4 separate regions of the Homo sapiens genome follow, and regions 1, 2 and 3 are each linked to region 4. Evidence: fine-mapped expression QTL. A gene starts in region 4. Each other region holds a variant in brackets. All regions are shown on one strand. Distances are from middle to middle. Region 1 overlaps PHYH (phytanoyl-CoA 2-hydroxylase). Region 2 has its middle 15 kb from the start of UCMA. Region 3 overlaps OPTN (optineurin). Region 4 holds the start of PHYH (phytanoyl-CoA 2-hydroxylase).

The links. PIP is the estimated chance that this variant, and not a neighbour inherited with it, causes the effect. A credible set is the group of variants that fine-mapping cannot tell apart.
Region 1: its variant is the best candidate, but not a certain one, in a credible set for the expression of PHYH in cerebellar hemisphere (GTEx, PIP 0.74).
Region 2: its variant is the best candidate, but not a certain one, in a credible set for the expression of PHYH in skeletal muscle (GTEx, PIP 0.87).
Region 3: its variant is the best candidate, but not a certain one, in a credible set for the expression of PHYH in blood mononuclear cells (TOPMed, PIP 0.72).

The regions. Positions count from the first base shown.
Region 1 is chr10:13,277,417-13,280,162 of GRCh38, reverse strand. PHYH (phytanoyl-CoA 2-hydroxylase) reads left to right here. Exons shown (of 9, transcript NM_006214.4): 9 at 1,809-2,364. The coding sequence ends at 1,862. Among named protein-coding and RNA genes, the nearest start is that of PHYH, 21 kb to the left of the region's middle. The variant A/G (reference allele first, on the strand shown) is at 1,608.
Region 2 is chr10:13,218,288-13,221,033 of GRCh38, reverse strand. No RefSeq gene overlaps it. Among named protein-coding and RNA genes, the nearest start is that of UCMA, 15 kb to the left of the region's middle. The variant ACTTCAGGGTTTTC/C (reference allele first, on the strand shown) is at 1,137.
Region 3 is chr10:13,116,741-13,119,240 of GRCh38, reverse strand. OPTN (optineurin) reads right to left here. Exons shown (of 15, transcript NM_001008212.2): 7 at 201-353. Among named protein-coding and RNA genes, the nearest start is that of OPTN, 18 kb to the right of the region's middle. RefSeq lists an enhancer at 2,483-2,500. The variant G/A (reference allele first, on the strand shown) is at 983.
Region 4 is chr10:13,298,561-13,301,306 of GRCh38, reverse strand. PHYH (phytanoyl-CoA 2-hydroxylase) reads left to right here and starts at 1,243. Exons shown (of 9, transcript NM_006214.4): 1 at 1,243-1,339. The coding sequence starts at 1,265. LOC124902377 (a long non-coding RNA gene) reads right to left here and starts at 1,118. Exons shown (of 2, transcript XR_007062056.1): 1 at 901-1,118. RefSeq lists enhancers at 917-1,056, 1,633-2,253 and a silencer at 1,237-1,656.

The DNA.
Region 1 (2,746 bases), 21 kb after region 4:
ACCCCGTCTCTACTAAAAATACAAAAATTAGCTGGGTCTGGTGGCACATGCCTGTAGTCCCAGCTACTCGGGAGGCTGAGGCAGGAGAATGGTGTGAACCCAGGAGGCGGAGCTTGCAGTGAGCCGAGATCATGCCACTGCACTCCAGCCTGGGCGACAGAGCGAGACTCTGTCTCAACAACAACAAAAGAAGGAATCTTGCTTCTCCCTTTAGAACCTGGAAATGTGTCGCATCTCTGAAAATGCTCTGATTTTGCATTTGCAGGTCCTAGAAATTCTTGTCCTTCCTCACTTTTTGTTCAGTACCTAAAATGCCTATACATTTTGTCAACTGGAGCTTTGAGCTAACATCCTAAATTTTAAGGGAGAACAAATATATGTACATTATGTTTGAGGTTTGTCAAGGTTGTGCTAAATGAATACCTCCCACATTTAGTTTAATTACTCTGTAAGTTATATTTAGAATAACAATATTAACCTCTGCTACATAGTTCTCTGTAAAGTACAAAAGCACATTCATATTCATTTTCTTATTTTCTTCACCAAAACCCGGTGGGGCAGTATAAACTCCATGCTGTCAATGACAAGAAAACAAATCCCAGAGGCTGATCTAAGCTAGCTAAGCGACAAAGCTTGATTTTAGAGTCAGGTCAAATCTGAAAATTATTCTTTCCACCATACCTTGCTGTTTGCTCAAAAATAAACAAGAACCAAGAAATAAGAACATCTAAATTATTTTATTAAGGGCAGAGGGGGAAGAAACCCACCAAACAAAGCAGTAATCCTTGATACCATGTTCACTATTATCATCTCATCAAGAGTAGAACACTCAAAAAGGCTCAGACAAGTAACATAAGAGTCATCAGGCCAGGTGCAGTGGCTCACTCCTGTAATCCCAGCACTTTGGGTGTTTGAGGCGGGTGGATCACCTGAGGTCAGGAGTTTGAGACCAGCCTTACCAACATGGTGAAACCCCGTCTCTACTAAAAATATAAAATTAGCCGGGTGTGGTGGCACATGCCTCTAATCCTAGCTACTTGGGAGGCTGAGGCAGGAGAATCATTTGAACCCAGGAGGCAGAGGTTGCAATGAGCCAAGATGGTACCATTGCACTCCAGCCTGGGCAACAAGAGCAAAATTCCGTCTCAAAAAAAAAAATTATGCAGAAAAATGGCAGTGAACTGTTTGTTCTGTAACCCGACATGACATTGACCCAGTTATGTTAGCTGGCACCAACAAATATCCTGAATAAAACAGAACTGACAGCAGCTGGGGGACCCACTGACTTAATTTAGTTAACACTGTTTTAGAAGTCGGTTAAGTAGACCAGGAGTGGTGGCTCATACCTGTAATCCCAGCACTTGGGAGGCTTTGCAAGGCCAAGGCGGACAGATCACTTGAGGCCAGGAGTTTGAGATCAGTCTGGCCAGTGTAGCGAAACCCTGTCTCTACTGAAAATACAAAAAGTTAGCTGGGCGTGGTGGTGCACACCTGTAATCCCAGCTACTCGGGAGGCTGAGGCAGGAGAGTCGCTTGAACCCGGGAGGCAGAGGTTGCAGTGAGCCGCTGCACTCCAGCCTGGGCAATGGGGTGAGACTGTGTCCCCA[A/G]AAAATTTTTAAAAAAGAGTTGAGTAAGTAGTTTAAGTTGAGTTGTTTTGTTTACTAATGAATATAACTTACAGGGATTATTTTCCCTATGTAACCTTTCATAGAAGCTAGAAATCAATTTTGTGTTATGGTGAAATTGAAGGTTAATGGAGGGCAGATTGAAGTGTTCCATAAACCCACTCTGTTTGATATTATTTCCAGGATATTTGGATGTTTCGAGCTCGACTTGTGAAAGGAGAAAGAACCAATCTTTGAAATAGCCATCTGCTATAACTCTTTCAACAGAAAACCAAAACCAAACGAAATGTCTAAGGAAAATGTTTTCTTAATGAGATGATGTAACCTTTTCTATCACTTGTTAAAAGCAGAAAACATGTATCAGGTACTTAATTGCATAGAGTTAGTTTTGCAGCACAATGGTGTTGCTTTAATGGAAAAAAAAAACAGTAAAAGTGAAATATTACTGTTTTAAGGAAAACTAATTTAGGGTGGCAGCCAATAAAGGTGGTTGGTGTCTAATTTAAGTGTTAAATCAATTTCTTTCATTCAGTTAGCTCTTTACCCAAGAAGAAGTGAATGATTTGGAGCTTAGGGTATGTTTTGTATCCCCTTTCTGATAAACCCATTCCCTACCAATTTTATGTCATAAGAGATTTTTTTCCCCCAAATCTAGAACAATGTATAATACATTCACATCTAGTCAAGGGCATAGGAACGGTGTCATGGAGTCCAAATAAAGTGGATATTCCTGCTCGGACAAGGGCTTTCTCCTGTGATTTCTTCAACCCAACCATTCCCTTAACAAGAAGACTTGTTCTTTCCAGTCCTTTCCTCTGTTCCTGAAGAATGAAGACAAGGGCCAGGTGCAGTGGCTCACGCCTGTAATCCTAGCACTTTGGGAGGCCGAGGTGGGTGGATCACCTGAGGTCAGGAGTTCAAGACCAGCCTGGCCAACATGGCAAAACCCCATCTCTCCAAAAATACAAAAAAAAAAAAAAAAAATAGCCGAGCGTGGTGGCATGCACCTGTAATCCCAGCTACTCAGGAGGCTGAGGCAGAAGAATTACTTGAACCTGGGAGGCAGAGGTTGCAGTGAGCTGAGATCACACCACTGCACTCCAGCTTGGGTGACAGAGCAA
Region 2 (2,746 bases), 80 kb after region 4:
TATTCATGGTGTCTTTTCAGACGGCAAATCTCACTTCTAGCTCCATTAAATTTAACCAAGTCAGACTTAACCAGGTTCCTAGTGCATACCCTAGCTATGTGATCCATGTACTTCTACCACCTACCCCAATGCCTTCGGGCCTGGCTAAACAGAAAGGCTGTTTAGGAACCCGCAGCTCTCCACAAACCTCCTTGAAAGTGACACACAGCTTTTAGTAAGCAATGTTCTAGCAGTGGAAGAGACTGGTATAACAGAAAAACTTTAAGGCCAGGTGTGGTGGCTCATACCTGTAATCCCAGTGCTTTGGGAAGCTGAGGCAGGAGGATTGTTTGAGGCCAGGAGTTTGAGGGTGCAGTGAGCTATGATCAGGCCACTACATTCCCGTCTGTCAGACAGAGTGAGACCCTATCTAAAAAAAAAAAAAAAAAAAGAAAAAGAAAAAATGAAATTTGAGAACAACATGTGTCTATCTAGATCAGTTACCGAGTGGATGGTGAGCCTGCCAACTGGGGTTGGTAGTTGGGCAGCAGTGAAAGCTTAACCACTGCTAGCTCAGATCCTGAGTCAGGGGTGCAGGCTGTTCAGCCAGCGATACCAGGGAGGTTGCACTGTATTTGCACATAACTGACCTTCTGGTTGGATGCCAAGACAGGCCCTGAGGTAGGTAGCCTCTGTTTACAAGGTTTTTGTTTTTGTTTTTTTAATTAATGACTAAAAAAAATACTCAGTGTGCAACAGAAAAAAAGGCAAAGTGTTGCTCTGTCACTTCCATGGGGAAACAAGAGAAGCCCCAATCTGGTTCATATTGGTCAGGATAACACACCCCAGTGCTTTCTGGCAAGAGGGCAGTTCCCCTTTGCTGCATGGTGGTGATCAGGAGGATGTCAACCAATAACTTGACTCACAGCCACACCATGCACCACCTGCCGGTCGTGTGTCCACAGGAAGGAATGCAGGGCTTTTCAGATGTCAAAAACCAAGAATGGCTTGCTTTAAAAAAGCAAAACAGCCTGTTCTTGCCTCTTCCCTGCTCATGCTTAGCACGGTGGCTCTAGATACAGAACTCTGGCAGAAAGGAGCCAAATAAGAATTCCATTACCTTGTTCTACCCCCATCCTTAACAAGGGCTCCATTAT[ACTTCAGGGTTTTC/C]AAATTCGGTCCAGAATTCCTTCACCAAATGCCAGCTGCGGTCATTTCCTTGGGCGGGAGAAGCATAACAGAGGTAACGCGATCTGGGATCTGGACAGCCACAGTTCACATGAAATTAGAACAGGGCGGTTTGTATTTTGGAGACTGGCCTTGTCAAAAGTGTGGCCTTTGGGGCTTCTTTTGCTTGGGTTTTTCTGTTCTTTCATTACTTTCCCGTAGTTCTTAGTGGGTTCTAGCTAAGTGGTTGAAAACAAATTTGTCAAAGGATATATCTGTCATTCATTTTTATTCACCAATTTTGCATATGTTGGAATTTCATTTTCCCAGTGCAGGTTAAAGGTACAAGGAAAAAACAATGTTTTTGTGTGTTCCAGGAGAGATTTTACAATTTATTATCGTGTGCCTTTGTTTATTTAGATTTTTTAGAAGGAGGTGGTAAGTTTTGTGAGCCACAGAATGATTAAAAAAATTTTTTTAACTTATGTGGTTTTTATCAGTTACATTGAGTTGGGTTATTTTATTTCTAATTCATTTGCTGCCAATTATGTTCTAATTCTTTGGGAAGTTTTTCATAATTTAAAAGTTTTTCATAATTTAAAAGGCTGGGCGTGGTGAGCCACACCTGTAATCCCAGCACTTTCAGAGGCCGAGGTGGGAGCATCGCTTGAGCCCAGGAGTTTGAGACTGACCTGGGCAACATAGTGAGATTCCATCTCTACAAAAAAAATTAAAAATTAGTTGGGCATGGTGACACATGCCTGTAGTTCCAGCTACTCGGGAGACTGAGGTGGGAGGATTGCTTGAGCCCAGGAGGTTGAGGGTATAGTGAACTATGTGACACCACTGCACTCCAGACTGGGCAAGAGAGTAAGACCCTGTCTCTAAAAAAAAGTTGTCTCTAGCCTTGAAGGGATTTCTCTGAAAACAAATTGGTTAAATATAAATGTTCTAGTCTACAATTGAGAACTCTGATATACTCTGTGATCTTATAATGTTTAAAATTATAAATGTTTAAAAATGTTTTATTCACTTTCCACATTATCTTGGCTTTTTAAAATTAAAAATAGTCTAACAGGTACACGAGACTCCATCTCAAAAAAAAAATAGTCTAACAGGTAATACACACCCATGGTTTAACATTTTTTTTTTTTTTTTTATCTTTTCTTTTTTTTTTTTTTTTCTTTTTTTATTATTATTATTATACTTTAAGTTTTAGGGTACATGTGCACATTGTGCAGGTTAGTTACATATGTATACATGTGCCATGCTGGTGCGCTGCACCCACTAATGTGTCATCTAGCATTAGGTATATCTCCCAATGCTATCCCTCCCCCCTCCCCCGACCCCACCACAGTCCCCAGAGTGTGATATTCCCCTTCCTGTGTCCATGTGATCTCATTGTTCAATTCCCACCTATGAGTGAGAATATGCGGTGTTTGGTTTTTTGTTCTTGCGATAGTTTACTGAGAATGATGGTTTCCAATTTCATCCATGTCCCTACAAAGGACATGAACTCATCATTTTTTATGGCTGCATAGTATTCCATGGTGTATATGTGCCACATTTTCTTAATCCAGTCTATCATTGTTGGACATTT
Region 3 (2,500 bases), 180 kb after region 4:
TGGAGGAGCAGACAGTGAGTGCTGTTTGGGGGAAAAAATGTTCTAAAATTATATTGTAGTAACAGTGGTTGCACAATCCTGGAATATTCTAAAAAACACTGAAATGTATACTTTAAATGGGTGAACTGTATGGTATCTTAATTATATCTCAGGAAAGCTGTTTTAAAAAAACACATATTTCAAGTTAACCTATTTCATACCTTTCTTTGGCCTCCTTGAGTGCAACTTCAAGTCTCTCCACCTTCTGATTCCCTTCCCTTAGGCACAGCAGGAGCTGGCTCACAGTTAACTCCTCATGTTCGAAGTAATTCTTGGCCCCATCTGCAGATCTGCTCCTATATTTAGACAATGCCCTGTTCAGTATAAAGGTTAAAAGGTTTTCATCAGAAAAATTCCAAAGACTAAGAAGAGAGTAACCCAATATAACTGGGACCAGCTTAAAGGAACTGCTTTCCAGAACATTCTCCAACTAATTCTCAACTAGTGAACAAGCACAGCTGGTCCTGGGACCCCCAGTGCCAAGCTCCTCCATGCTTCCTAGGGAAGGTGTGGAGACTCAGTGAGGCTCTGGAGAGGCCAGCTTACAATGCACACACCCACGTCCTCCAAACAGTCACTGTGTACCTCACACCACACCACAAAACTCACGGAACAGTTCAGCAGAGGCAGCCGTGGCTGAAGGTGCCAAGCTTTCCAGAGATCTAGTCTCAAAGGGGACTGCAGTCAGACAAAAGATAAAGGCACATTGTACAGACCACTGGCCTTTCTCCAAGTTAACAGAGACCATCACAGCTTAAGTCAAGGGGAGAAAACCTTTTTCACTTGTGGTTTCAAATAATGAGAGCAGAGAAATGGAGGCTCTGTTGATATGTCAAGTATTTTTCTCGATTTCAAAATCTGACTAAATCAAGAGACATATCAGTGACAAACAGAATCATGATCACTGTTACAAAACATGAGGGATGACTATGATGATGCTAAC[G/A]GCAGCTACTCTTTCAGTCACCGACTCAGGTTCGCATAGCTAATAAACAGCCAGGATTAAATCCCGGTTTCCAGGACTCTGAAGCTTCAACTCCAAACCTGGAAATCAATCTCAAACTAATTACGATACTCACAAATGGTACAGAGCTGTTATTTTAAAAATAGCCATGTGGCTTAAAAGAGGAAGCGGTCTTTGCATCTGGATATGAATGATGAGGAAGTGGCTTTGATATTTCAACCAGGGCTTTTTTATTTCCCACTACTTCCAGGAACGTCTTTAAATATGACAAAAGCAATTTGGGGGAAACGTGAAGAATTGTTAACCAAAAAAGGGAATTACTTTCGTTTATGCCAATTACTGTGTTTGACGAAAGAATATTATCTAATACTTACTTTCTTCCTTATACAAGGGCTTAGAAACATAACGGAAGACAATTTTTTTCACGTTTTGTAAGTCATTCTATATGCACATTCATCAAGTTATACAAAGAAGGTTTTACAAATCTATGAGATAGCTGGGCGCAGTGGCTCACGCCTGTAATCCCAGCGCTTTGGGAGGCTGAGACCAGAGGATCACCTGAGGTCAGGAGTTCGAGACCAGCCTGGTCAACACAGTGAAACCCTGTCTCTATTAAAAACACAAAAAGTTAGCTGGGCGTGGTGGCGGCCACCTGTATTCCCAGCTACTCGGAAGGCTGAGGCAGGAGAACTGCTTGTACCCGGGAGGCAGACGTTGCAGTGAGCTGAGATTGCGCCACTTCACTCCAGCCTCAGTGGCAGAGTGAAACTCCATCTCAAAAAAAAAAAAAAAAAAAAAAAACTCCATCTCAAAAAAAAAAAAAAGATGGATCTCTTATCCGTCTGTGAGATAAGAGATCCTGGCCGGGCGCGGTGGCTCATGCCTGTAATCCCAGCGCTTTGGGAGGCCAAGGCGGGCAGATCACGAGGTCAGGAGATCGAGACCATCCTGGCTAACACGGTGAAACCCCATCTCTACTAAAAATACAAAAAATTAGCCGGGCATGGTGGTGGGCGCCTGTGGTTCCAGCTACTCGGGAGGCTAAGGCAGGAGAATGGCGTGAACCCGGGAGGCGGAGCTTGCAGTGAGCCGAGATCACGCCACTGCACTCCAGCCTGGGCAACAGAACAAGATTCCGTCTCAAAAAAAAAAAAAAAAAAGAGATCCTTAGAGTTCTTTTCAGACAATCGTCTCTTGAATAGATGATTACAGGAGTAAGCAGCTTGCAGAAGGCGAGCTAGCAGTCTCCTTGGTGAGCACTGCTTTGCGAGAGTCAAGAGGTTCAGGCGCTCAGTTCTAGGTCTGCCTCCCTCCCCAAGGCCCTGCCACTATTTAAGATGTCTGTTTCCTCACATCTACATAGGACAGGTACACTTGAGACTCCACAGATAAGAAATCTGGGCACTTTCAGGCAACACCCACAATGACTGAGAGTGCTATCAGTCATTGTTACAAAAGATGTTCCAGTATTGGCCATGCCAGCTTATAACTGGGAAGTAG
Region 4 (2,746 bases):
TTTTTATTTTTTTTGAGACGGAGTCTTGCTCTGTCGCCCAGGCTGGAGTGCGGTGGCGCCATCTCGCTCACTGCAAGGTCCGCCTCCTGGGTTTACACCGTTCTCCTGCCTCAGCCTCCTGAGTAGCTGGGACTACAGGCGCCCGCCACGACGCCCGGCTAATTTTTTTGTAGATCAGGTGTTCTCACTATGTTACCCAGGCTGCTTTCGATCTATAGCGATCCTGAGCTCAAGCGATCCTCCTGCCTCGGCCTCCCAAAGTGTTGGAGTTACGGGCGTGAGCCACCGCACCCGGCTAAAAACCTGTTTGTTTGTTTGTTTGTTTGTTTAGAGACGGAGTCTTGCCCTGTCACCCAGGCTGGAATGCAGTGGCGCCATCTCGCTGACTGCATCCTCCGCCTCCCGGTTGCAAGTGATTCTCTTGCCTCAGCCTCCCCAGTAGCTGGGATTACAGGCGTGCGCCACAACACTCAGCTAATTTTTGTATCTTTAGTAGAGACGGGTTTTCACCAAGTTGGCCAGGCTGGTCTCGAACTCCTGACCCCGTGATCCGCCTGCCTTGGCCTCCCAAAGTGCTGGGATTACAGGCGTGAGCCACCGCGCCCGGCAAACTTTTTGTTTAAATCGGAGATTTTATTCTTTCAGCTGTCAGTGGAAGGAGCAGTCACGTAGGGTTAAACAGATGGAAGCCATGACGTTAGGAGAGTGAGTGAGGTCCCAGCCCAGCCACTTGTCACTGTGTGACCTCGGCCTGGTCACTGGGCCCCCGAGCTTCGGTGCGGCAGGGAGGGTCCTGGTGATGGAACAGAAACAGGGTGCGGGGCAGGGGTAATGACTCACGCCTGTAGTCCCAGCACTTTGGGAGGTCGAGACGGGAGGCGGGGGGAGTTTGAGACCCACCTGGGCAACGTAGCGAGACCCCATCTCTACAAAAAATAAAAATTAGCCCAAGAGTTCAAGGCTGCAGTGAGCTATGATCGCGCACTGCACTCCAGCCTGGGCGACAGAGCAAGATCTTGTTTCTTTTTAAAAAGAAAGAAAATAAAGGACGGAAGGATCATGGTGTGGGGAGGACTTCAGCCCCGGGCGGTTGCCCGGCGCGCGGACTCTAGCGGACTAGGGCTCCCCAGCAGCCCGGCCCGCGAGCTGGCACCGCCCGGAATCCCGCTTACGTCCAGTCCGGGGCGGCGCCTGGAGGCGGAGCCGCCCGCTGGGCTAAATGGGGCAGAGGCCGGGAGGGGTGGGGGTTCCCCGCGCCGCAGCCATGGAGCAGCTTCGCGCCGCCGCCCGTCTGCAGATTGTTCTGGGCCACCTCGGCCGCCCCTCGGCCGGGGCTGTCGTATCCTTTGGGCTGCGCGGGGCTCGGGCTGGATCCGGCGCCGGCGCCGCCGCCTGAGTGGTGGCCCTGGTCCGGGTGGAGGCCTCGGGGTCGCACGCTTCGCAGCCCCAGCGCCTCCTCGCTCAGCGCCGCGTCCCCGCCTGGGTCGCGTCTCTTCCAGGAGCCGGGGAGCGGGGAAGAGGCTGCGTCCCCCGAGGACACGCGCGGCCGCCCTGGGGTCGGGGCAATTGCCGCGTTGCCCTGCCCTCCGGGATCCCTGGGGGCCTCTGCTCCTCTCTTTGTGGAGACGTCGTTTCACCGGCGGCGCGTGACCCCGGCAGCTGTCCAGAGACCCAGAGATGTCCAATCACAGGCGCACGGTGCACAGGCGCGCAGGGCTGCCTGGAACCGGCCCAGGCAGGCAGTGACCGGGACCTCTCCGGAGGGGAGAGGACGGTGCCCTCCCGGGCAGGAGCTGGCCAGGCAGGCGCTGCCCAGGGCGGCCTCCCTGCTGGACTACGGCATTGCCACTGAGTTATATAAAGACACTATTTGGGGAAGGACAGCGGGTGAGGACTGGCGCGGCGGCACACGCCTTGCCTGTTGTCTCGGCTCTTCTGGGGGCCAAGGCCAGGAGTCCAGGGTTACAGTGAGCCGTGATGGCCAGTGCGTTCCAAAAGAGAGAAACAGAGAGAAAGAAAGGATAACATGTTAATTGATGAGAGTGACATTCCGAAAGTAACCGATTAAGCTAAAGAAACAATGCAATTCTATGTCAACTCTCTGCAGTTACCGGATAGAAAGGAGATCTTTAAAAGGAATTTCTAGGGTTTTGCTTTTTTGGTTTTTTTTTTTTTTTGAAACAGGGCCTCACTCTGTCACCCAGGCTGGAGTGCAGTAGTGGTACGATCTCGGCTCACTCCTGGGCTCAAGAGATCCTTCCACCTCAGCCTCCTAAGTAGTTGGGACTACAGGGTTGCGCCACGATGCCAGGCGAATTTATGTTGTTGTTGTTATTGTTGTTATTATTATTATTATTATTATTATTATTATTATTATTATTATTTTTGAGACGGAGTCTTGCTCTGTGGTCAGGCTGGAGTGCAGTGCCGCACTCTGCAATGTCGGCCCACTGCAACCTCCGCCTCCCAGGTTCAAGCCATTCCCCTGCCTCAGCCTCCCAAGTGTAATTTGTATTATTATTATTAGTAGTAGTAGTAGTAGCAGTAGTAGTAGTAGTAGTAGTAGTAGTAGTAGTAGTAGTAGTAGTGGTGGTAGTTTTTTTTCTGAGATGGAGTCTCTCTCTGTTGCCCAGGCTGGAATGCAGTGGCCTGATCTCAGCTCACTGCAATCTCCACCTCCCAGGTTCAAGCAATTCTCCTGTCTTAGCCTCTCCAGTAGCTGGGATTACAAATGAACGCCACCACG